Linked DNA regions of Homo sapiens. The protein of the gene in region 2 interacts with the protein of the main gene of each other region in a pairwise test. Each region holds a gene or a part of one and is shown on either strand. Other genes may lie near its edges.

Evidence for each region.
Region 1: the proteins of SGK1 (region 2) and MAGEA1 interact in a two-hybrid assay, tested with the Homo sapiens proteins (one study listed by BioGRID and IntAct).
Region 3: the proteins of SGK1 (region 2) and NDRG4 interact in binary tests that used the Homo sapiens proteins (3 or more experiments, as listed by UniProt).
Region 4: the proteins of SGK1 (region 2) and MAL2 interact in binary tests that used the Homo sapiens proteins (3 or more experiments, as listed by UniProt).

What each region holds. Positions count from the first base shown.
Region 1 is NC_000023.11:153,175,246-153,182,283, reverse strand, and holds the start of MAGEA1 (melanoma-associated antigen 1), read right to left. Parts: upstream 3,001-7,038; 5' UTR 2,919-3,000; intron 108-2,918; 5' UTR 35-107; intron 1-34.
Region 2 is NC_000006.12:134,315,096-134,322,895, reverse strand, and holds the start of SGK1 (serine/threonine-protein kinase Sgk1), read left to right. Parts: upstream 1-4,783; 5' UTR 4,784-5,435; coding exon 5,436-5,504; intron 5,505-7,800. UniProt on the Homo sapiens protein: Serine/threonine-protein kinase which is involved in the regulation of a wide variety of ion channels, membrane transporters, cellular enzymes, transcription factors, neuronal excitability, cell growth, proliferation, survival, migration and apoptosis.
Region 3 is NC_000016.10:58,510,139-58,514,149, forward strand, and holds the end of NDRG4 (protein NDRG4), read left to right. Parts: intron 1-506; coding exon 507-545; intron 546-1,283; coding exon 1,284-1,438; 3' UTR 1,439-3,481; downstream 3,482-4,011. UniProt on the Homo sapiens protein: Contributes to the maintenance of intracerebral BDNF levels within the normal range, which is necessary for the preservation of spatial learning and the resistance to neuronal cell death caused by ischemic stress.
Region 4 is NC_000008.11:119,204,506-119,211,363, forward strand, and holds the start of MAL2 (protein MAL2), read left to right. Parts: upstream 1-3,857; 5' UTR 3,858-3,967; coding exon 3,968-4,099; intron 4,100-6,858. UniProt on the Homo sapiens protein: Member of the machinery of polarized transport. Required for the indirect transcytotic route at the step of the egress of the transcytosing cargo from perinuclear endosomes in order for it to travel to the apical surface via a raft-dependent pathway.

The DNA.
Region 1 (7,038 bases), on a different chromosome or scaffold from region 2:
TGAACCTTGGAGACTCTAACAAAGGCCTACTTACAGATCTTCTCCTTGGTGCTCCTCTGTGGCCTCCAGGGAATCCTGTCCTCTGGGTTGGCCTGTCCCCTGAAAACCTGAAGGAGGAAGTGAGAGGGTACTCAGGGTACAGCCGGCCAGCAGAGGTCGATTCTACAGGACTGACAGTAGGGAGGTGAGGCCAGACTCTGTGGAGTCCTATGTGTCCTGTGGCAGGTGGGGCCCTTGGTGTGCATTCAGGGCAAACATTCACTGCTGGCACACCCTGTGCATCCTCTGCTCTGTGACCTGAGGATACTGTCTCAGACCAAGGCCTCACTGCCTGGTTCCTGGAGCTCCAGGAAGAGGAATCCACGGGCCCTCAGGGTGCAGACCGCAAGCACAGCCCTGGCTTCTCAGTGCTACCAGGAGGGTGGGCTGGACTCTGTGACATCCCCACTCTCATGCAGTGGATGACCCCCTCTGTTCTCACGCAGGGCCCTTATATTTTTCCTGGCAGGGCCTGGATCCTGCCCTTTTGCTGGTCTGAGAAATCCAAATCAAGAGTTCACATCCATGATAAGGAATGGAAGGACAGGAGGGGACAAACATCTGGCCACACGTGCCTAGGTCCTTGGGGAAGGGCAGCAAGAGATATCAAAATTCATTGGAATTAATGTGTCCTGGGTGAGGTGCCCGCTTGGTCCTCACCTTGACTCCTGGCAGGGCCTGGGACGCTCCCTCTACTGACCTGAGCGCAGCCTTCTCAGACCAAGGCCTCCCCGTCCCTGACATCAATGATCCCAGGATAACGGAAGGACCTCGGCAGACGGCCCAGCCCATGCTCTCTGGGGTGACAGCAGGGGCAGGGCTGATTTCTGTGCAGTCTCCCTCAGTGTTCTGGTCCTGGGGTACCCTCAGTCCTCCCTCATGTTCCTCACCCGAACGCATGGCAGATCCTGGGACCGCTCTGTCTTTAGACCAGATGGGGGTCCCTACGTTGACCTGAGTCACCCTCTGAGAATGAGGTCCTCACCTGCCCCAGATCTGGAAACAGGAGTGAAAAGAAGCCACATCCTGGGTGAGGTGTCCAGGGCTGACCCCTTTGGTTCTGGGGTGAGGATTCCAATAGCCTTGTCTGTCTCACTCATCTTTATTCCTGCCAGCGCCTGTGCTTCCTCAACCCCCAATTCCCTGACATGAGTAGACATCCCCCCTTTACCCCAAGACCCCATCTCCCTGAGGGCCCCCCAACTTCCTGCCTGTGGTACAAGTGAGAATGGAACATACCGCCATCCCTGATCTGGTCCCCCTAGAGCTACTAAAAGGGGACAGCCAGACTGTGTGGAGTCCCTTCTTTCTGAGCCGGGGATATCCCCAGTCCTCATGAAGGGGGCACATCTTGGGCCATATGGATCCTGGAACTCCTCCCTCTGTTGACCTGAGGCCCCACTTCTCAGACCACAGCTCTGTCCTGTCACCTCAAAGATGCAGGAAATATGGGCCATATGTGGCCACCGTGCCCTGGACCTCTCAGGGCCGAGGTCCACACTGATCTGGATTCCAAGGTCCCCTGAGTCCTCCCTCCTCTTCCTCCGCGTAAGCCTTGCAGGCCTGGGTCCCACCCCCATGCTAATCTGAGTCCCCATCATTCTGATTCTTGAGGCCAGAAGTGGCAGCCTCAGTCTCAGACAGGGGTGCGGTGTCCTAGGGTGCTGGGTCCTCTGAGGCCTCCCTCATCTCGCAGTAGGGCCCTCCCTCTGCTCCCCTGAGGCCCTGTTCAAGCCCCTTCCCTCCATCAGCCCTGGATGGGGACGTCAAGATCCGAGTGCCTGGCCGCCATTCCCGTGGCTTCCGTGGGTTGACAGCAGGGATTCTGACAAGATGAGGTTGGGGGTAGGGGGTAGGTATGGGAATGTGAGTGGGGTGGCGGTGGAGATGAGGAGACAGGTGTGGGTGGGGAACCCTCAGTTCCCTCCCAGGGTCCTGACCCTAATGCCGGGCGGATGCCTGGACCTTGATGCCTGGGCCCTGCCCTCTCCTGACCAACCCTGCCCCGGTCACATAAGCTATGACTACAGATTGCCCTGTGGGTTAAGTGGCAGTGGGACGGGACGGGGGGTGGTCCAGCTGAGACATCTGTCCTGGCCGGGTGGTCCAGGGCTGGCAGCAGGGGTGGTACTGGATCATTTTGGGGCCATCTACCTGGGGTGTGTGCCTCCTCAGTCCTCCCTCAGCATCTCACCTTGCCTCCTCACAGAGCCTAAAACCACTCCCCTCAGTGGATCTCAAGCCGCCCCTCAGAACCATTAAATGAACCTGGCTTCTCTCAGATCTGTGAGGTTCAAGTCAGTGGTTTCACATCGGGCCATCCAGGGCTTCCCTGGGTTGAGAGCAGGGGCAAACCGGATTCTGCCAGAATGGGGGAGGCGATGGGAGTGGGGCACATGAGAGAGATGAGGGTGGGGTTGGGGGCAGTGAGGGTGAGGTGGCAGAAGGGTTGGGGCTGGTGCTGGGGCTGGAGGGTGGTGGTCAGGTGACGGAGTAGGAGTAGGGATGGGGGTGGAGGTGTAGCTGAGGAGATGGGGGTTGGGTGGGGAATGGGAATGCGAATGGGGTGGGAGTGGGGATTGGAGTGCAGTCTTGGGGGCCCACAGCCCTCCCTCTTGGGTGCTGATCTTGATGCCTGGCAGAGCCTGTGCCCTGCCCTCTCCTAACCAGTCCTGCCCTGGTCACAGCAACCTCTGATTCCAGAGCTTGGGGAGAAGAACCTGGTGTCTCTCAAGGCTTTTGGAGCAGGGGTCTGGGGGCAGCCCAGGCTGAGACGTCTTCCCGCGGGTGGGCCAGGGCTGGCAGCAAGGGCGGCGCTGGAATATTTGGGGCTCTCTATTTGGAGTGGCGGGGTCCTCAGTCCTCCCTCAGCCTCTCACCTTGCCTCCTCACAGAGCCTGGGTCAGGTTCCTTCGGCCGAACTCTACGCCGTCCCTCAGAATGGAAACCTCGCTTCTCTCTGCCCCACAATGCGCAAGTCAGTGGCGTCACATCCGGGCACCCGGATGTTTCCTGGCGGGAACCGGATCCTGCCTGGGTGGGGGTGGGAGTGGGCGTGGGGGTGGGGGTGGGGGTGAGGGTGGAATGGCTGGGCGGATGGGCATCAGGGTTGAGGGATGGGGTGGGGGATGTGGGGTGGGGGTTGGAATGACAATGAAGAGGGGGTTGGGTCACGGGAGTGAGCATTGGAGTGGGGGTTGGGTCACGGGAGTGGGGTCTTAGGGACCCTCAGCCCTCCTTGAGAATCCTGAGCATGATGTCTGGCAGAGCCTGGACGCTGCCCTCTCCTAAGCAGCCCTTCCCTGATCACACGAGCTCTGACTTCAGAGTCCCCAGTGGTTTAAGCAGCAAGGGGGCTGGGGGTGGCCCAGCCTGAGAAGTCCACCACCAGATGGTCCAGGACTGGCATGAAGGGATTATTTGGGGTCCTCTATCTGGGGTAAGTGGGTCCTCAGTCCTCCCTCAGCATGTCACCTTGCCTCCTTACAGAGCCTGGGCCCGCTTCCCTCCACCGATCTCAAGCCGCCCCTCAGACCGAAAACCTCGCTTCTCTCTAACCACTAATGCTCAAGTCAGTGGCGTCACATCTGGGCACCTGGGCTTCCCTGGGTTGAGAGCAGGGGTGGAACCGGATTCTGCCTGGCTTGGGCTGGGGGTGAGCGTGAAGATGTTTGGATGGGTGGCGTAAAGGGAGGGATTGGGGGTGGTAGGGGGAGGGATGCCAGTGGTGCCCCGGGGCTTAAGTCGTCGTGTTGGTGGTAGTGGGGTTGGGCGTGGGGTTGGGGGACCCTCGGTCACCCCTCAGGGTCCTGACTTTCATGCCTGGCAGAATCTGGACACCCATATTCTCTGCCGATTGTGTCTGCTTCTCTCCCACCAAGTCTCTGGCCCCCAGTCCCATGAGGTGGCAATGGGAGGGGGGGTGTGGTCGTGGTAACATTGCCAGGGTCTTCCAGGGCTGACAGGAGGGGCTGAGCTGCATTCTGTGGCCCATCTACGTCGGGAGAGTGGACCCTCTGTCCCCACTCAGGAAGGTCCTCCTCCCGGCTCCTGGCACTTTGTTGAAGTCATGGGCGGGAGATGCTGTTTCTGCCATCTCTGAGCATTTGCCCAGCTGCACCCATTGCAGAGAATGGCTGCAGGTCCCAGGCCAGGTGCTCCCTGCAGAGTGGCAGCTCCCGCGATTGTAGTGACCTCTGGGAGAAGACGCACACCTTCCCACGGGGGCTTCTCTCCAGCCAGAGCTACACTTGGCAAACCTTTTGTCCTCAAAGTAATATGTTTTACTCCCAGGCACGGTGGTTCACGCCTGTAATCCCAACAGTTTGAGAGGCCGAGGCGGGCAGATCACTTGAGGTCAGGGGTTCAAGACCAGCCTGGCCAACATGGTGAAACCCCGTCTCTACACAAAATACAAAAATTAGCTGGGTGTGGTAGTGCTCAGGAGGCTGAGGCGTGAGAATCGCTTGCACCTGGAGGCGGAGTTTGCAGTGAGGCGAGATCGTGCCATTGAACTCTAGCGTGGGCCTCGCGACAGAGTGACACTCTGTCTCAAAAAATTTAAAAAATGAAAAAGAAATACACTTTTCGTATCTTCCAAGGATATATGTAGGTAGCTGTATATATATATGTATTTATTTCTAGGAAAGAATACCTACCAGTAGTATGCATGATTCACTCTTATATCCTATTCTACTTCTTTTCCATTCTTTACGTTCTGTTGAAATAATTTTTTTTGAAACACAATTTCTCACCCACTATGTTGGTGTCTGGTTGTTATTAGTGGAACTCTTGATCCATACTGTCTTAACCAGCCCTGTTTAACTGGTGTCCTGCTGTTGCCCTAGGGCTACTAGCATCATGTTTTGAGGAGCTGCCTCAGACTGTGTAATGATGTGAAGTGGAAATTTGAAAACTTTCATTGTAACCATTTTGTCAACTGCAGTCTAGGCAGGGTACAGACCTCCCCAGTATCCCTGCTGCCACCCCCCCTCCAACCGAGACTGCAAGTGTCAAACACAATTACCAGTTCAACCATCTTCAGCATCACCCAGGGCTTTCTCTATTTTGTTGCTTAGACTTTGTTGCTGATATTGTGTCTTTCTCCTTCTTTTTCCCTTCTATAATTTTCCAGGGTTGATTTGTGAAGCAGAGAACAGCAGCCCAAATTTGATTGTCACGTTGGCAGCCACAGGTAAGACATAATTTGTACATAATTGTACATAATTGAAGCACATTTGACATTTTTACAGTGTTCTCTTTCTCATCAATGAATATGCTATGCTCCTCTATAATATGTGTGTGTGAGTGTGTGTATATATATATATATATATATAGAGAGAGAGAGAGAGAGAGAGAAAGATGGCATCTCCCTCTGTCTACCAGGCTGGAGTGCAGTGGCACTATCTCGGCTCACTGTAATCTCCACCTCCCAAGTTCAAGTGATTCTCCTACCTTAGCCTACTGAGTAGCTGGGATTACAGGTGCATGGCACCATACCCAGCTAATTTTTGTATTTTTAGTAGAGATGGGGTTTCAACATATTGGCCAGGTGTGTCTGGAACTCCTGACCTCAGGTGATCTGCCCGCCTCAGCCTCCCAAAATACTGGGATTACAGGCATGAGCCATCGCACCCAGCCTCATGTATTAATTTCAAACTCCTTTTACTTGAATCTGTCAGTATACTGTGATTGTTGCCTCTATAAAGACCTTCTGCATTTTTACTAGGCTTCTTTTCAGGTAATTCTTGGATTTTGATGCTATTGAAAAAGGCATATTGTATATTAAGTGTTCTAGTTACTGATTGCTTTCATCTGGCAAAGATTTTGATTTTGCTATTATAATCTGTTGTATACCTCATTCTGAAGGCCCATTCACTTGAATCTTCCACATGCCTACTCCTTTGAATTTTCAAGACTGATCATGTTATCACTAAACATTATATATTTTTTCCACTATTCATACTCCTTATTTATGTTGATATTTATAGCTCTGACTTTGTGTCTCAATACTGATTTAAAAGCTGGAGATAATACCTTACATCTAATTATTTTTCCTCTCTTTAATAATAAGTCCTCGAACATTTAGCATTTATGTATGTTTGCTGTTGATTTTAGTAAATGGAAATTCTCTTTCAAAAGAAGTTAACTAAATATGTTTACTTTGAACTCATATTGAATTTCCTTCAAAAGCTTTTCCTATACCCAGTGATATGAGCACTTATCTTTTTCTTCTCCATTTTGTATGTAAGGAATTACAATGAAATACGTTTCTTTTTTGTAACAATAAATCATATTTTCTTTCCTTGGGCAGAGCCTGTTTGTTCATTTAATATGCTACTAACTTATGTAGGATATGTGGTGTTATGTATGAGAGCTTCCTTGATGTGTTTTTGTCCATGGGTGGGGGTGGTCCTCATCTGGTTTTTGTATCCAAGAGGGCAAGTCTGGGAGAAGGAATTGAACGATAGTCTATATTTTGTATGCCTTGGAAGAGTTGAGGTAAGATGGTAGTTAGTTTTTCCTGATCATTTTGTTCAATCGGCCTCCAAGACTGCCTAGACTGGAACATTTGAGGGTGGCTTGAGCTATGAATATTGTACCATTTCTGTTTGTATAGTTTAAGTTTTCTTTTCCTTTTTGGACCAATTTGGAAATGTATTTATTTTATTTCTGCAAAGTGTTCAGTTTCACATAGGATTTCACTTTAAACGGTGTGAAATTTGCGATAAAAACTTTTTCTTAGGGAGCGCCTCAAAAACCTTGAATAATAGAATAACATAATGAAACCAGAACACCTGTCACTCAGCATCAACAACCTTCAATACATGTCATATCTGGTTCCAGTTTGAGGCTCACCTACTTGTATCTCAGCTGCTGGAATAATGTGGAGCAAATCTAAGACATCATTCCATTTCATCTCTAAATACTTCAATATGTTTTTCTAAAAGTTAAGAACTTTATGTTAACTAAAATCCCAATACAGTTTTCATTTCTAAA
Region 2 (7,800 bases):
AGATCTAATTTGGTAAAACCAAAAAATTTCAAATTTTTTTAAAAAGGGACTTTTGGCCAGGCTTGGTGGCTCACACCTATAATCCCGGAACTTTAGGAGGCCAAGGCGGGCAGATCGCTTGAGCTCAGGAGTTTGAGACCAGCCTGGGCAACATGGTGGAACCCCATCTCTACAAAAACTACAAAAGTTAGCTGGGCATGGTGACACGCACCTGTAATCTCAGCTACTCGGGAGGCAGAGGTGGAATGATCGCTTGAGCCCAGGAGGTTGAGGCTGCAGTGAGTCATGATCACACCACTGCATTCCAGCCTGGGTGACAGAGAGAGACCCTTTCTCAAAAAAGCAAATAAAATAAAATTAAAAAGGGTCTTTTGCATGTACAAAAACAAACCCATAATCCCCAGCAGGGTTTCCTAATTCTTCATTAAATACATCACTACCACTGTGGCTGGAGTTTTAAGCATATGATCGAGTCACTCAGGCCAAAAAGGAATGTAAAACATTTCTCATGAGGTGATGTATTTTTATCCCTTTCTCCTTAGGGACATTTGTCACTAAACAGATACTTTATTGTTTGTTATCTTTTGTGTATTCTGGGGTGCTATCGAAAAAAATTACATTCCATTCAACAACTAAATGTATCACACAAAAACACTTTAATCTATGGGAAGATAGACTTTCTAAAAAGTATTACAGTGGCATATGCCTCTTGCTTTAGTGAAACAAAGAAATGTAGAGTTATTTATTACTTTGCAAAACCCTTTCAAATATAATTTGGTACTGACAATTCCTTTAGGAGGTAGGTGAAGAAGCATTTTATTATTATTATTTTACAGATGAAGAAACTGAGGCTTAGTGCGTTGAGGGAACTTGTTGAAGGTTGCACAATTAGGGAATGGAAGTGAGGTAGAAGATGTTCCAAATCAATACAGCAGTCTTTCCACCGCAGGTACATATTGGTAGTTAGTCCTACCTAGCTACTTTATTTTATTCTTTGTGTGACAGCCTAAACAATATTGTTGGGAGGAAAAGTAGGTATACCACAAAAAAATCAAATAGAGGTTCAAGGGATTCTTTTTGTTTGTTTGTTTATTTATTTATTTATTTTGAGAGAGTCTTGCTCTGTTGCCCAGGCTAAAGTGCAGTGGAACAACCATGTCTCACTGCAGCCTCAACTTCCCAGGGTCAAGCAATCCTTCCACCTAAGCCTCCTAAACAGCTGGACCACAGGCATGCATCACCACACCACCTATTTTTTTTCCTTTTTGTAGAAATGGGGCTTTGCTATGTTGCCAGGCTGGTCTCAAACTCCTGGGCTCAAGTTATCCTCCTACCTCGGCCTCCCAAATTGTTGGCATTATAGGCATGAGCCACTGTGCCTGGCCCAAGGGATTATTTTTAACATTGGGATTTTCCATCAAAAAGAAGTGTCATCCCAGGGCTACAGTGTCATTGAGGCTTAAAGAGGAAATGGTGAGGAGTGAGGTCGTTTGCTCTTACTGGAGCTCAGCATATTGGCTATCATGGGAGAGAGCTTAATGACTGAAGAATCTTAAAGGTATTTAATGATTCCTGCAAATGGTCTGGTGCCAGGGTCACTGATGTCAGCTATACTTACTTTTGTATTTAATTCGTTTGAAAACCATTTGTTGAGTGCTAGCATGGCCCAGGCACTCCGCTGTGTGCTGGTGCTACAAAAATAAATAAGTGTGTTTTATGGGAACAAGAAGTGAGTTAATTAATTAAATTAAGTTTGATTTATAAACAAGATGTTGCATGAGTCCAGAGTTTTTTTTTTTATTATTATAAGCAGGAGCCTGTGCTCCTTTATAGGTATCAACAGTGGACCTGTCAAAGGAAACATTTAGTAAACAGTAGTCACTCTGGGCTTACCTGAGGGCAGCTTTACTTATGAAAATAGAGGTCAGAGTGAGATGAAAGATGCCTTCTTTTCCTGAATAACCAACACAGTGCAGTTAATGCATTTCTCTATTATTGCACCAATCAAAAGATAATCCAAAATAATTGGCTGTCAGATATAGTCAGAATCCCTGCCCTATACTTCTCTTCCTTCATCTGACTGACCTACTCATTCTTTAAGGCCATGCACTAACATCATCCCTTTAGGTAAATTTCCTGGACCTCTCTTACCCATCCAGCCCCACCCTTCCCCCCTCCAAATTAAGGCAGGGTTGATGCATACACACCACACACACACACACACACACACACACACACACACACACAGAGTAGTACACTCTTATCCATGGGGGATACATTCCAAGACCCCCCCCATGGATGCGTGAAACTTCAGATAGTACCAAACTCCATATACATTATGTTTTTTCCTGTACATACATACCTATAATAAAGTTTAATTTATAAATCAAGCACAGTAAGAGATTAACAACAATAGTAGAATAATTTTAACAATGTACGATAATAAAAATGATGTGACTGTGGTCTCTCTCTGTGTCTCTAAAAGTATCGTATTGTACTCACTGATTTTCAGACCATTGTTGACCTTAGGTAACTGAAACTGTGGAAGGTAAAACCTCAGATAAGGGAGGACTACTGTATATAGTATTCTTACCACACTGTATATTTCTCTACTAGGCTGTGAGTTCCTTGGTGACAAAAACCAGTGACACTTACATGCACTGGACCTTCCATAGGATCTAGCATAGACCAAGTGACAGTGGCAGCATCTTCAAGAGGTGGCATGGAGTGAGGGAAAAGATAGCATTTAGCTTGTCTTCTCCTCCCTCATAATCTCTATTAACCACCCGCCTGCACCCCAAATGAACATACATCCTACATGAAACCAGGGTATTAGTCCGTTCTCACACTGCTAATAAAGACATAGTGAGATGGGTAATTTATACAGGAAAGAGGTTTAATTGACTCACAGTTCAGCATGGCTGGGGAGGCCTCAGGAAACTTACAATCAGAGCAGAAGGGGAAGCAAACACATTCTTCTTCACATGGCATCAGGAAGGGGAAGTGCTGAGCAAAAGGGAGAAAAGCCCCTTATAAAACCATCAGATCTCATGAGAAATCACTCACTGTGGGAACTACAATTCAAGACGAGATTTGGGTGGGGACACAGCCAAATGATATCAACCAGTATGCATGCTAGGCCAATGTGGGATTAAGCAAAGCCCCAGCACCTCCTTCCTAGCAGAGTGCTTAAAGGTCCCCTCCTGTATATTACTCAAATTCAATAAATGTCTGTTAAAACACTTTTGGGGGAGTGGCAATGGGACGAAAAAGAAAGAACTTGAATGACCATCATTTTTTAAAATGAGGTCCATTGAGGTATAATTTACATGCAGCAAAAGTTTCCCTTTTCCTATATAAAATTTGATGAGTTCTGACAAATGCATAGTTATGTAACCACCACCATCATCATGATAGAGAACACTTCCATCGTCTCAAAATAATTCCCTTTGAACTACCATAATTTTAAATGAACTCTTTAGAAGAACCACAAAAACTTATCAATGTTGTAGATTACATAACATATACTTGCATCTTGGACAACTTAACATATCTCTCCAAAATGAATAGTTGTTTTCCCTTGGTTATCATGCCATCATTTAGTTGTATTGCATTTTCTTTTTGGAAACCTCAAGGCATTTAGCAAACAGGATTTCATGTTTATTCCCAAAAACTCTGGCCCAACTGTAGAGATTTATAGTCCAATTCAATGAAACCCATGCATTTCTTTCCCAGTTTAACCTGATGTTTCTCTTCTTACCAGAGACTTCCATGTAAATACTTTAACAATGTTAGGTGTGTTATATATAATGAGGTCATAATCAGTTTCAAATTAGCATTGCGCCTTTCACTTATTTATCAATTATATTCCCTTGTGATGATTATGAAAAGGCTCCACATCCTGAGGACACTTGTCAGAGTTAGATTTATTAATGGAATGAAATAGCAAATAATGAATGACTAAATAAATGAATGAGTGAATGAATGAATGAGTGGCTGCCTCCATTTTATGGATGAGGCAGTGTCCGAAAGGCACAGTGAGGTCAGGTGATGGCAGAAAGCCACACACCGATGTTGGTGGCTTTCTGCCAGGTCAGATGCCAAGTTTATTTTCTTTGCTTTCTTGCTTTACTATCAACTAATCTTTAAAATCATTCCCATAAAATATCAACATTAAAGAATAAAAATGGAAAAATAAGCCACATACAATTAAATGGCTTTTTTAAAAGGAGCTCAGTGTGCAAAGGATAACATGAGTAAGGATTTTTTGGGAAATTTTTCACCTAATAGGAAGAATGCTTTACTCTTTTATTTATCAAACCTTCCTCATCATTAAATGGATTCAGTAGTACTTTTTGGTAATAACTCGTGTGTGTGTGTATGTGTGTAATAAAGTACTTTGTATATGTTCATTGTGTTCTTTTTTTAATAAGCTGTTTTAATGAAAAAGACACAATTACCGTCACCATTGCCCACTATATAATGACAAGTAGGGGAGGGGAGGCTAAAAGAGCTTCTACATAGTGAGAGATCTTCCATTGTTATACCTACGCTTGCACTTTATTTCATTTTCTTCCACGTTTGGACAGGTCGAGATTAAATGTGATTACATTTCCGTTGAGAGGCTTTTATTCAGCAACAGGATTCAAAAGAATGTCAATGAGCATAAAATAAAAACGGTGTGCAATTTATATGAAACTCTGATTTAAATGGTCCTAACCAAAAAAAAAAAAAAAGAAAGAAAGAAAAGAAGCTATTTAAAGTAACCCTCCCAAGGGGAGTCAACTGCTCTTCAGTGTGCCCTGAGCCGGCTGTGCCTTCTCTCCATCCGCTGCTCAGATATTCATGAACCGTTGCTTCTTCCAGCCTCGCCTTCTCGCTCCCTCTGCCTTTCTGGCGCTGTTCTCCCTCCCTCCCTCTGGCTTCTGCTCTTTCTTACTCCTTCTCTCAGCTGCTTAACTACAGCTCCCACTGGAACTTGCACAATCAAAAACAACTCTCCTCTCTCAAGCCGCCTCCAGGAGCGCATCACCTGGAGAAGAGCGACTCGCTCCCCGCGCCGGCCGCGGAAGAGCAGCCAGGTAGCTGGGGGCGGGGAGGCGTACCCTTCTCCCGCTCGGTAAGAGCCACAGCATCTCCCCGGAGATTGGCCGTATCCCACCGTCCGGCCCCCAGGGTCCTGCAGCGGTGATGCATATGTTTCGGAGCAATGATGGAAGGAGAAAAGCCGCTGTCGGTGGCAACTGAAAGTGGGGAGAGGTTGCTGCAGTAGCTGGTGCTGCAGAATGCGCGAGTGAAGAACTGAGCCCCGCTAGATTCTCCATCCCGCTCAGTCTTCATTAACTGTCTGCAGGAGGTAAACCGGGGAAACAGATATGCACTAACCAGGCGGGTGCCAACCTGGATCTATAACTGTGAATTCCCCACGGTGGAAAATGGTAAACAAAGACATGAATGGATTCCCAGTCAAGAAATGCTCAGCCTTCCAATTTTTTAAGAAGCGGGTAAGGACAGGTTTTGCTTATTTCTTTTGTTTTCTGTGCTTCTCTTAAATGCTTTTGAATGTTTGCCTGAAGTAAGCCTGAGGTTTTGTTGCTAAACCCTTAATGTAAGCCGTGCTTCTGATGGCAGTGGTAAAGCTGAGAACTATACCTGACTTGATTAGAATTTGTTGGAGGAGGGGCAGGGGGCTATGAAGAGTTGCATTGGGAGGAGGGGGTTGGGCTGAGATGCCTTAAACGGGTTTGAGCTGGGAATGGGGATTTTTCTCTCTCAAGCCACAACAAAGATTACAAGGCAGTCGCAAAGAGAACTGGCTTGAGTACAATTATGGCTAGTAATTTAGTCAGGGGCTAATTTAGCAGCTTCCTCTCATCTTTGAAGGGTTCAACTTTTCTACACCTTTCATCCACTCAGTCTCAAGTGATGCATTATCATCTTCGTTCGTCAGAAGCAGCAGCTTCTGGTTTCCCAAATCCATTCAGCCAATAATTTGCTGTGTCTCTATCTGTGGTATAAATAGCAAAGGAGTAGAATGACCTTTTACAGAAATGATGGAATCCAGCATTTAAAATTGTCTATTTTAAGTTGCCTCAATTTTTGCTTTTGCTTAGAATAACTGCCTTTTTTTTTTTTTTTTTTTTTTTTTTTTTGGGAGAGAGCAGTGGGAGGTCTGTATTTGAGTGATAATTCAGGGTTATGTTGCTGTATGCATTTATTTCTTAAACTCCTTATTCTTCAACTCAAAGTATGAATAATGTTGCATTGGTTGTAGGTGAGAAAAAAGGATTTTTTTGCATGTATATTTCACAATAAACTCAGTTCACTGGGATGGCCACACTGGTGGTCTGTGTAAATCTGCAAATTTATACACAAGCGGGAGGTAAGAAATGAATGATTGTTAAAGGAATGACACTGACACTCTTAAGGACAGTGTTTCCTAAGCAACGTAAGAGAAGGAACATCCTCCAGTCCCCAGTTGCCCCATCCTATTTAATACCCTAGGGCAATTCCACCAAAATGGTTCTCTCCATTCATTCCTCCTTCCTTTCATTCAGGTCCTTTCTGTGCCACTCCTGAAACACAGCCCTTCAGTTAACTCATCCGCAGAACACAGTGAATTTCAGGGTGGGCTGGACTATCTCCCTGCACCAAATGGGCAAGCTGGGAAGGCAAGGCTAGAAATGCAGGCAACATGTCAGGCCCAGCTAGAGGGCCAGCGAAGGCTCCCAAGCACCCTTGACTGAGTTCTCATCAGTAAAGCAAAATCTTTCTCCAAGTCTGTGGGCCAAAGCATATGCATTCAAACCAAAATGAAACCAACCTGTCCTGGCCCCTGCTCTTGGAGTGGGAGTACCATGTGAAATCTCACTAGTGAGCTGCAAGCTAAGTGAAAGCAAGTCAGTGCAACTTCACAGAGCTCCACAAGGCTTCTTAGTTTTTCTCTGTAGCTAAAATATTTCTTTCCAAGGGAAGAGCCCTTTATGAAAATTAATTTTCTTTCTTTCTTTTTCTTTTTTTTAGAGACGGGGTCTTGCTATATTGCCCAGGGTGGTCTTGACCTTTTGGGCTCAAGTGGTCCTCCTGCCTCAGCCTCCCAAATTGCTGGGATTACAGATGTCCACCACCAGGCCCAGCCCTAATTTTCAATAATAAACAAATGTTTTGCTAATTTTAAAAATGCCATAGCCCATTATCCAGTATTTAAACTCTATTGCCTTTTAATTACTGTATTTATTTCATGGTATTGGGGATATTCTAAAACTCCTCAGTCAGATGTTCTTAAGCAATGTAGATTTAAGTTACATAAATTTTAAATTGTCTTTTATTTTCTTTGTTATCAAAATGTACTAATAGAAATACTAATTTGCCATTTGGTTTTGTTTTGCTTAAAAGCAAGTTTACCAATAGACTTCAGTTGGTGACTCTGCAGACCTTGAATTTTGCAGAGAACCACCCAGGGTACTGATGTCTTATCTGAGTACATGCAGAAAGAAGTTTCTACCAAGATAACTGGCAGGCAGCTTCATCTAACTTCTAACCTGGGTCTATCAGTTGCTGGAGACAGGATCAGACATCTCTCCTGCCCCTGCGCTCTCCTTACTCCTCAAGGACAGTTAACTAAGTAGAAGGTGACCTTGTATCAAGTCATTGAATGCCCCAGGGATAAATTCTTTGATTTTTGTCTACTTTGGTTTATTCCACAAATTCTGTATTCTAAATGTTTATTTCTGCTTGTACATGACTTTGCTTTTTTTGTTTGTTTGTTTTTAGTTAAACAATATGTAAATACATCTATAA
Region 3 (4,011 bases), on a different chromosome or scaffold from region 2:
GGGAGGACACCCAGGAATAGAATGCTCTCTGGAGCAGGGCAGAGCCCTAGGGCCCACAGGGAGGCTCCGCAGGAGCACAGAGTCTGGAATCAGGGCACAGCAAGCATTTGCGAGGTGAACGGAAGAACATTGTCAGGCGCTGAGACGCGTTCTCAGGGTCCTGGGGAGAAACTCCACCAGGCAGCCCCAAGCTGGGAAGGGCACAGAGCGGGCAGGCCTCCCCCATTCTGTATGCAGGAGACTGAGGCCTAGGAGAATGGTGAGGGGATAAGCACCCCACCTGTCAGGGCTTCCTTGGGCCAGAGATCCTTCTGGGGGCCACTGCTGGGTGGGCAGGCAGGAGTGGGCTTCCAGAAGCCTCTGGCCCTGCCCCCAGCCTCTCTGTGCCTGTCCTTTGTCCCATCTCTCTGGCTCATCTCAATGCCCTTGACTCAGCGGACCACGCTCTTCACTGTGTTGTGTCTCCCCCATCCCCGCCCCCTCTCCGGCTCTGTCTTCTCTCTTAGTTGCGTACTTGAAGGACCGAAGGCTGAGTGGAGGAGCAGGTAGCCCCACGGCCCTTCCCCTGATGCATGGACGCCCAGCCTCCTCCTCCCCCGCTCCTTCCTCTGCGCAGTGTGCTGCAGCCAGGCCGCATCTTGCTGTGGTTTGGAACCTTCTTGTGTCCTGTTCAACTCAGAAACCCCACAGATTCTTGCTTTTCTGCAGGCTTGGCCTCTAGGTTGGCTGGGTTGCAGAGCAGTCTTGCTTCTAGGTTGTCATGAGCTGCGTGGCTTCCAGAGCTCTGGGGATAGGAAACAGACCCTCCTTAGAGGTAGAGCCCAGGCCTGGCCCTGCCTGAGCCACATAGGTGGCCAGGAGAGTTCCGGAGGGTAGAGTTTGCTGCCCGCAAGTCTTGCTTGTGAAACTCTGAATTAGGGAATTAGGGCACAGTCTGAATTGAGGGCAGTATGCGACCACCGCTCCGCGTCCTCCTTTACAGAAACAGTCCTACTTCTCCACTGGCATCCTCTTGAGGGAGGCACGGCTGGAAACCCAGCACCTCCCTGCACCAGCTCAGGGCTGCCTGGTCAGCTGCTGGCCGCAGCCCCCTAGGCCCACTCACTGTCGCCGGCCCTGCATGCCCCCAGCCCGACAGCTGTCGCCAGCCTCCTGACTCAGGAGGAGCCCTTTGTGCCTTCGAGGAACGGTTCGCTGGCCGCTTTGCTTGCAGCCTACTTTTCCCACCAGAGGCACCTGGCCCTGCCCGCCAGTCCTCAGGCCCATCCTGTCTCTGTCCACAGTGCCCTCAGCCAGCATGACCCGCCTGGCACGCTCCCGCACTGCATCCCTCACCAGTGCCAGCTCGGTGGATGGCAGCCGCCCACAGGCCTGCACCCACTCAGAGAGCAGCGAGGGGCTGGGCCAGGTCAACCACACCATGGAGGTGTCCTGTTGAAGCCCTTGATCCCGCTGACGACGCCCACGTCGAGGCCCCACCGCCATCCTTGCGCCGGCTCATGTTCCCTTTAGTTTATTTTTGTGAGGGCAAAGGGGAGGAAATGGGGTTCTGTTTGAAAAAAATGAGGGGATCTTAGATGCTGCAGCAGAACAGTCTCCAGGTGTTTTAAGGGGCTCAGTCCTCCTCATCCCATCTCACTCTCCGTGGTAACTTAGCCAACTTGACCCCTCTCATCCCACTCCCGGCGGCCCAGGCACAGAAGGGCAGGGCCATAGGGAGGGAGATTCGCTACGGATCCAGGCCATTCCTGGGTGAGCCCTTGGGCAGGCATGTTTGGAGATGAGAGAGGCTTCGAGAGGGTGGGTGCTGGGCCACAGGGGTGCGGGGCCAGCTCAGGCACTGGCGTGGGAGCCCTGGGAGACCCCTTCCCCCACCCTCCACCAAGCACACCTGTTTCTGTCTCATAGCACATGTGACAATCATCTGGACAACAGCCACAAGGGGGCGCTCGGACCAGGCAGCCACTTTCCTGGTGCTCTCTGGGCCCAGCTGGTGCTGTAGGGCCACGCAGGCAGGGGCGTCAAGGGGTTTCTCTGCCCAAGGAAGACAGAACATGGAGAACCGTCAGGGCAGGAACCCCACAGACTGTCCCTTCCAGCCCACACTCTGCCACCTCCTGGCCCTGTCCCAATTCTGAGCCAAGGCCTCCCCGAGGCAGAAGTTGCCTGGTCCTCTGTCCCCACAGTGACCTGACTGGGGGTGAGGGAGAAGGAGGAGAGAGCCCATGTGTGGTGTGTGTGCCCCTGAGAACTTCGTGGTGACTGCCTTTGGGAGCCCGCAGGTGGCCAGAGGCAGGGGTAGCTGAGTTCCTGGAGACCCCTTTTTTGCCCCCAGGTTCCCCAGAGGGCAACGCCATCAGTAGCAGTGTGGTGTTTCAGGCAGAGCTCTGGCCAGGCTGTGCCAGTGTGTCCCGGACGCATCACTAAGGAAGAGAGAGTTTATTTAGTCAACTGGCCCAAGGCAGCGAGGCTTCTACAGTCCCACACCCCATAGCCGCCTGGGCTGGGGCTTACTGGGGGCTGAAGGTTCTGGACATGAACAAGGGTCAGGTAGAAGAGAAAGGCTTCCCCTACACCCCAGCCTCCTGCTGTCCCCTGAAGCCCAGGACTGCGTTGTATGCTTTCCATCCACTCACCTTACCCCATAGCATCTTGCGGCCCAGAAACCAGAGCCATTTGTCTCAGACCCTAAATCAATAATCACAAACCCCAAAACGGGAGAGAGCAGTGAAAACATGCAGGGCTGTGGACGGGGGAAGGGTTGTGGCGGGTGTTCTGAGGCTGAGAGGACACCTATATGCGTATTTCCTCTACACACATCACCCCCCTTCTATAATCTTAAGCCATGACTAGCCTGGTGGCGTGTTAGTTTCTGCCCAGTTCTACCCCCTCATGTGCTTCTTCTGAATACTGAATGTGACTGTTTGAAAGCTGGTAGAATTCATCCCTCTTACTGTAGATAACACTGCAAATCTTGGAATTTTGTTTTTTGCTGTTTCCAGATGTATCTATAAATATCTATACATTATATGTGTGTGTGTGTGTGTGTGTGTGTGTGTACATCGGGTCCTCCCATGTGTGGTGTTCTTCTGGAGGTTGTCTCTTTGGTCAAGGTGAACTTTTAATGTTTATTATTTTCTTCTCCGCACAAAGTAAAGAGCCTAATTTTGTGTATTCTGGTGGCTGCTGTCATGAGATGATAAAATGTAAAACAAAACTCTAGTCAACGTAGAAAGAGTTAACTGTGCTGAAAAACTAATAAAGAACCTAAGAAGAATTCCAGTGTGGTGATGCCATGCCCATCATGGGAGGCTTTTGGAGAAACAGAATGTTTGGGCAGGGGCTGCTGGTGCTGCTTGGGTTTTGGGTTGAGGGTGCTAGGAGAGGATGGTCTCCACCCATCTTTCTATTTCCAGTACACGTCACATTATTTTACCGGTGAGATGAGAATGTCACAAACATTAAAAGCCTTATGTGCTCATTTCTGCTTATGTGCTCATTTCTCCCCTGACTCTGTGACAAAATACAGCTCTCCTCAGCCAGGCACGGTGGCTCAAGCCTGTAATCTCAGCACTTTGGGAGGCTGAGGCGGGCAGATCACTTGAGGCCAGCAGTTCGAGACCAGCCTGGGCAACATGGTGAAACCCCGTCTCTACTAAAAATACAAAAATTAGCTGAGCATGGTGGCGCGTGCCTGTAATACCAGCTACTCGGGAGGCTGAGGCAGGAGAATCGCTTGAACCTAGGAGGCAGAGGTGGTAGTGAGTGGAGATCGTGCCACTGCACTCCAGCCTGGATGACAGAGCAAGACTCTGCCTCAAAATAAAACAAAAAAACAAAATACAGCTCTCCAGAAAAAAATGCCTTAAAGACAAAACAAAACACCCCTGCCCTCCAAATCTCTTGCCTGAGTCACTACATTCCTTCAAAGATAAATGACCTACTCTTTGCCTTCTCCTAAACATACGATCATGTCTGACAGGGTTAATGATTATACTCTGCAATCTATAA
Region 4 (6,858 bases), on a different chromosome or scaffold from region 2:
AGAATTGTGGGTTTATAGATTGTCTAAGGAGATCACAGTCGGGCCACTTTAAAACTTCTGGTGGTCTGATTCACAGCTCATGTTGGTATCTGATATCTACCATCTCCTGGTGCCTCCACTGAACTTTTTGATTTAATACCCTGTTACACAACACTAGCAAGCAATAGGAGACAAGTAAAAACACAATTTCAATTCAATGATATACGTTCTCTGTGTGGATTATGCACAGCAGGTTATAGAAACACACTGGGTGACAGGGGGCCCTACATAATCTTGAATGGGCAGAGAAAGGCTGCCAGAAATATCTGTCCCTGTGACCCAAAATATACAGAAAATAGGTTGAGGATATGGGAGTGGTAAGAAGAAAGGATATCCTGCAAAAGAGAGGAGAATGTGTAAAGGTTGGAGGCAGGAGGTATTGAAGATGTAGGTGGATCAACAAGGCTGGTGAGGTGGGAGGGCTCATCAGAAGCCACTTGCCAGAAATACCTTGAATGCACTCCAGGGCATCTGTAATTGATCCTGAGAAAAGTAAGGAATTGGAGGCGTTTTAAGTAGAGGGGTGACTGATAAATTTTCTGTTGAGAGATCATTCAGATAGCAGTGCAGAGAATATAAGAGAGGGAAATTCACTGTCAGAAGCATATTCCTTCTGAGAAGAGCATTCACTGTGAGAGGGATAGTGAGTCAGAACAGTGGAATGGAAAGTGCATATATTCTAGAAAATAAAATGGTAGAACTGCCAGAACCTGGTGACTGATTAAATATGTGTCATGAGAAGGAGGTACCAAGGGAAACACCCAGGTGTTTGTCTTGGATAACTGGATTGATGGCAGTGTGAAACAAGTATTACTGGCTAGATGTCCTAAAACTTCTTGTAAGCTAAAAGAAACTATGGAAGGGTGGAACAGTCTAGATTTGTTTTCATTCGCTGAACATAAGCCTACTTGTGACAGGCACAAGGACAGGTAAAACAAAAGAAGCTATGGGATAAGAACTGAGAGAAATATTGCCAGGCATGGGGGTGGCAGTGGGGGAGGCGGGGGGAGGTAAAAGGAAAATGACCTTTTAGGGGATTAGATCACATGAATTAGTAGTGGAACCAAGAGTCTTCATTATGACCTTCTTTCAGCAACCCTGGGCAGTGTGATGAATGATTCAGAGAGGGCAGATGTAGATTGTGGGTTGAACTCTAGCTGAAGAATAAGGAACGGTGAGAGTAAGTTTAGAGTCAAGTACAAGATGGGAAGAAATGTGGGATCAATACGAGCATCACGAAAATGCCTTCCCATAAGCACAGGCTGGAAGGGGAAGCTAGAAAAGCTAGAATGGGGCCAATGAGAGAATGCAAGGGATGGTAAGGCTGGAGGCCAAAGAATTGGGGATGAAAGAGAGAAACCAATAGGAGACAGTCATCAGAATGTCAGTGTCCAAGAGAATGGAAGCATAAAAATTCCCAATAATAAGGTGAGAATTTATTGACTGTAGCAAGTCGTTTTGAGTCAAGATCATTAAAAATATAACAACATGAATGTTGACATTCCATAAAAATGGAGTCCAAAGGAAGTCTATGAGCAGGGTTAAAGTTATGCTGGAAGTCAGGAACCACCGGAACAGGTTGGGAAAAGAGCAGAAAGTTGAAACTGTTAAGAGCTCATGGTTAGTGTCCTGGAGGAAGAGGCAGAGGAGTGGGGTGGAGTGGAGCTAAGTGCGTTTTCTTCCTTTGATTTTAGAGGTGTTGCCTTCACTAGAAGGAAACTGGTATTATCAAGAACAAACAGGTGTTGGTAGCGATCATAAGAGAAAAAAGTGTTCTAGAAAAGAGTTCTCTTTCAGCCAGGCACAGTGGCTCACACCTGTAATCCCAGCACTTTGGGAGGCTGAGGTGGGTGGATCACCAGGTCAGGAGTTCGAGACCAGCCTGGCCAACATAGTGAAACCCTGTCTCTACTAAAAATACTAAAATTAGCCCGGTGTGGTGGCAGGTGCCTGTATTCCCAGCTACTCAGGAGGCTGAGGCAGGAGAATTGCTTGATCCCAGGAGGCAGAGATTGCAGTGAGCCAAGACCACACTATTGCACTTCAGCCTAGGAGACAGAGTAAGACTCTGTCTCGAAAAAAAAAAAAAGTGTTCTTTTTCAAGCAGATAATATGTTACAATAACAGAGCGCTCATTGACAACCTTTTTCATGCCACTGGTCACTGTGGAAGCAGGAAGGAGAGGCAAAGCAAAGATGGCTGAGGATATGCAGTACAGCAAGGAGGGTGCAGTAAGAGACCCAGTTGAAAGTGTTCTCCTAGGTGGCAATGCTAAAATAAGCTCACTTGAGGCTCTTCTGAATCATTAGCCCTTCTAGAAACTCCAAGGACGTATTAAATTCACTCACTAAAATATTTTGGGCATAGCGTAGTTGCTGATCATCTCCATGATTACTTCTTTGAAGTCTTTCCTTTGAACATTTTTTAAGTGCTTACTGAGAATTCTTAGGCAGAAAATAAAACAGAAAGATCATCCCGTGCCAGAGTCTGAATACAGACAGGGCTCATCGATCAAACAAATCCATGCAGAAAACTTAAAATTTCCTATTAAATAAACACCACACATTAAATATCAGAAAGTGGTGACTAAGAGGTGGGGAGAGGAGGGATATACAGAAGGTTTCACCCACACCCTGTTTTGTGGTTTTTACCCGGATGCCACAACCACACCTATGAGTTTCACTTATTAAAATAATAGAGAAGTAGAGTAACTAGAATCTGCTGAGCAGAGCATAGTGCTAAATACAGTTCCTCAGAGACTGAACCTGACAGGCAAGGTCAGGATTCAACTTGGAGAATGTCTGATGAGATTAGCCAATGTTTTTTTCCAACGTGGTCTACCTGTGTGTGCTGATGCATGTAGATTTGGTAGATTTGCTCATCTTTAGTAGACGAGAAAATTAAGCTCATCTCCTCTGTTGAACTTACAAAATGTTGACGTTAAAACCAACGATAAAATGGAGATAAATGGGGATAAACTAGAGCAGGAAATTCGAACCATACATAGACTTAAAAAAAAAATCCCCTTAAGCCATTAAAAGGCAATAAGCAATTAGTTTTATACCAGTGAAATCAATAATTAAAAGTTCTACTTAAAAAAATATAACCCATGCAACATCGTGTGTCCACTGAGCAGTGATAGGCGCCTGTGTAAGGAAAAGAGCTCTCATCATATCAGCTAGCATTTAAGGAGCTTACTGTGCGCTCAACTCTTTTCATGTTATATGATCTAATGTGAGCATCTATGCCGGTGGATTTCACATCCCCGTTTCACGGACGAGGACACCTCCGGTGACCTGCAGGGACCCCGCGCCAGTGGCTGCTGCAGCTGACTCATCCGACTCCCACGCGCGACGCTGCCCTAGTGGCGTTTAAAAAAATCCCACTCGAGTCCCATTTAAAACATAAGCACCCCACTTTTTAAGTGTGACTGGTGACCTCGATTTTACCTTCTGAGTCACAGCACCAAGACCTGTGTATCTGTCAAACTGAGCACAGTGGGCGAGGGCGCGCTGTGAGAGCTGGGGAGAAGACAGGTGGAGAGCACAGGTGCAAACTAAGGGGAGGGCTAGAAGGTAAAAATAGCGATCAGGGGTATGGGGGTGCGCATGGAGACGCCCGCGGAGCGCTGGCGCTGGCCAGCGGAGCAGGAGGTGAGGTCGGCGGAGCTGGGAGGACCGCGCCTGGCGGCTGCAATAGCCGCACCTGTGCACGTGATCGCGAGCGGCTCGGGCGCCAGGGCGGAGCGGCGCTCACCTGGGCCCACGTGACGGGGCGGGGCTCGAGGAGCCCCACGGCCACGCCTCCTCCCGCGCGGCGCGCCCGGAGCCCGCGGAGCTGAGCGGCGGCGGCGGCGGCGGCAGGAGCCCGGGAGGCGGAGGCGGGAGGCGGCGGCGGCGCGCGGAGACGCAGCAGCGGCAGCGGCAGCATGTCGGCCGGCGGAGCGTCAGTCCCGCCGCCCCCGAACCCCGCCGTGTCCTTCCCGCCGCCCCGGGTCACCCTGCCCGCCGGCCCCGACATCCTGCGGACCTACTCGGGCGCCTTCGTCTGCCTGGAGATTGTAAGTGGGGCCGCCGGAGCGAGGGTCGCGCGGGGAGCGAGGACAGGCGGCGGCATCCTTGTCCCCCGGGCTGTCTTCCTCTGCGTCCGCCCCCGGCCTCCTTCCCTTCGACGTGGCTTTGTCCTGCGCTCCCTCCCGGGGTCCTCTCGGTGCCCCGCGCCGCCGCCCGGGCCCTCCCTCCTAGCACCTGTTACGCGGGCACCTGCTCCCCCGCGGGCGACGGAAATTGCCTGGGGAGGGCGAGTAGGCGGCCCGGCAGGGCCGAACATTGGGGACGTGGAGGAAAGAAAGGTGTTGGGGCTCAGAGGCGCCTTTAGAAACCCAGGGCATGGCCAGGGGCCGCGCTTGGCCGGAGCGAGCTCCTGGCTCTCGGCCTCGCCTGTTGCTAACCTGCCATTTTGTTGGGTGGTGCAAAGGTGTAGCCGATGACTGGGTGACCTGGTGGCTGCCACGCTGTGGAAAGTGGGGGCGGGAGGCAACAGGAAGAGGAAGAGGGCTGAGGACTTGAACATGCTTTTTCCCCACTCACCCTTGCCATCATTAGTGGCCTTTGGATTGGAAAGAGGAGCTGGGCAGGAGGCAGGGCAAGGAGAAAGGTGAGTTATGTGCCATGCCCTGGGCAGTTTCTAATCCAGTGGGTGTGACAATGGTGGGGGAAAGATGGAAACGTGGCTCTCGAGTTCTTCTCTGCCTGCCTTTGCACCTTCTCACTTCCTGGCCTCCTTACGCAACTCCAAACCTTTTTAGCACACTTTGTTGGGCCCAAGTAAAGGTGGGGTTACCTGCCTGTCGTGCAGCCTTTTTAGGTAGCACTTGAACTTTTTAAATGGAATTTTATGGAGTTGGAAACTTTCGAAGCTCCTTGTGGACAAGTAGATAATGTGCAAATATAAATTGGGCAACCTGAGGTTGCATCATGCCTGAGAATGGCAAATAAAAAGTGAAATGTTAGCGAGTTAGTGCCTTTCCGGCAGGCTGGTATTGTTTGCTCGGTTTAGGATTTTCATCTCTCCCCTCACCCTGGCCTTTGAGCTTGCATAACCTTTATTTGGGTCGCTTTGGTTTCACTTTTGTGCTTGTGGAGCTGGATCACCTTGTGAGCACTGTTCTATTATGCTCAGGTAGCCACACCACCCTAAGTTAAGTTTAGCCCGGATTTGAATCTGAAAGAGGAGACGTGAGTGAGTTGCAGGCTATGACATCAGTAATGGGATCCTGACTGCGAGGCTGGTTTGAGTTTGAGCCTGGTTCAGAAGCATCTGAGTGCTTGGGATGAGGTGCAGGCATCCATGTGGGAAGAGCGGAGAGACGATGGCATTGGGCTGGCTGCCTTGCTGTGGGAGGGAGACACGTTTAGAACTGGAAGATCTGCAAAGAACGATTTCTTAGGTTCTCGGCTACTTTATTCCATGTTCTGCAAGCTCCAGTTTTTTGCCTACCTCTTTGAGAAGTTTTTGCCATATCCGCATTCCACCTGTACTAGAATTTACAGACAGTTCATTGAAATACTTTCTAAACTTCAGTACTTTTGTCTTTTCTTAAGCAATAATATACATGAAATTTCAAATTTGATATTCTGGTTATATTTTTCTAATGTTTATTCAAATATATGTATGTATGTATGTAAAGATACATGTATGTGTATATGTAAATATATATACATGTGTATATGCAAAGAAGGCTTATCCATATGCCCTCTAATCAAATACCATCTCAAGAACCTGTAGTCATGTCAGACTTTTAGGAAACAAGGCCTAATTCTGGGGGAAAAGAATAGAAAGTGACTTAGTCAATTTCCCCCTCCCCCTCCCCATTATATCTTTTTTAAATCTAGCCCAGAGGTTAGTTCTCAATTCTTGCTGTACTTAATAACTTGAACAGCTTTTTAAAATAACTGTTACCAGCCCAGACTAATTAAATCAGAATCTCTGGGGGAGTGCCAGAGTTCACTAGTTATTTTTTAAAGCTTCCCTGGTGATTCTAATATTCAGAGCCTAGAGAAGACAGCTCTGCTTTCAGAGATGTGAATTCTCTCTATCCGCTAAAACTGCCACCACTCCCCAACCTAGGAGGGATTCCAGACTCACAGAAGTGTCCAATCTAATCCTCTTATCTCATTTCCTCTGGCTTCTTACATCCTGAAACATGTCTCACACTCTTGGCTACGTAGAACAGCATCACTTCCAAAAGCTTATTAGTTTGCTTCTCTCTTTTTATGGCCAACTCAATAAGTTTACATTTTAGGCCCCCTTTATCTCCTTTACTTGAATATCAATCTCCCCCACCCCATTGAAAAATGACCAAAATGTTCCAATGAAACTGGTGACGTTAGAGAAACAAAACAAGAGACCACACTAGAGTCAAACTATAGCTCCTCGGCTCTCATCCTTTAGGACTGTTTAGAGATATTGGTTTACATGCTTTAAGAGAGCAGAGATCAAAGCTGGCTTGTTACCCCTCCATTTAGAATACTCATCTTGAGTGGATGTACAGATAGAAGCTAAGTGAACACTTTTGAAGCAACTTAGCTCCTAGATGTCTCAATTTCCATCTAATTTTCTGATTCTTTTAAAATTGGCCATCTCCCATGGCTCCTCCTCAGAAATTCCTCAACCTGTAAAGTAAATGTGAGAATTTCCCAGGCACTGTCCTAAATGCTAAGTGATCTCCATTCTGGGGACCCATTATTTTAACCTCTGCCGGTGTTTCTGGATATCCTCAAACTCCATTTTAATTTTGACCTTCTGTTCAAATTCGTT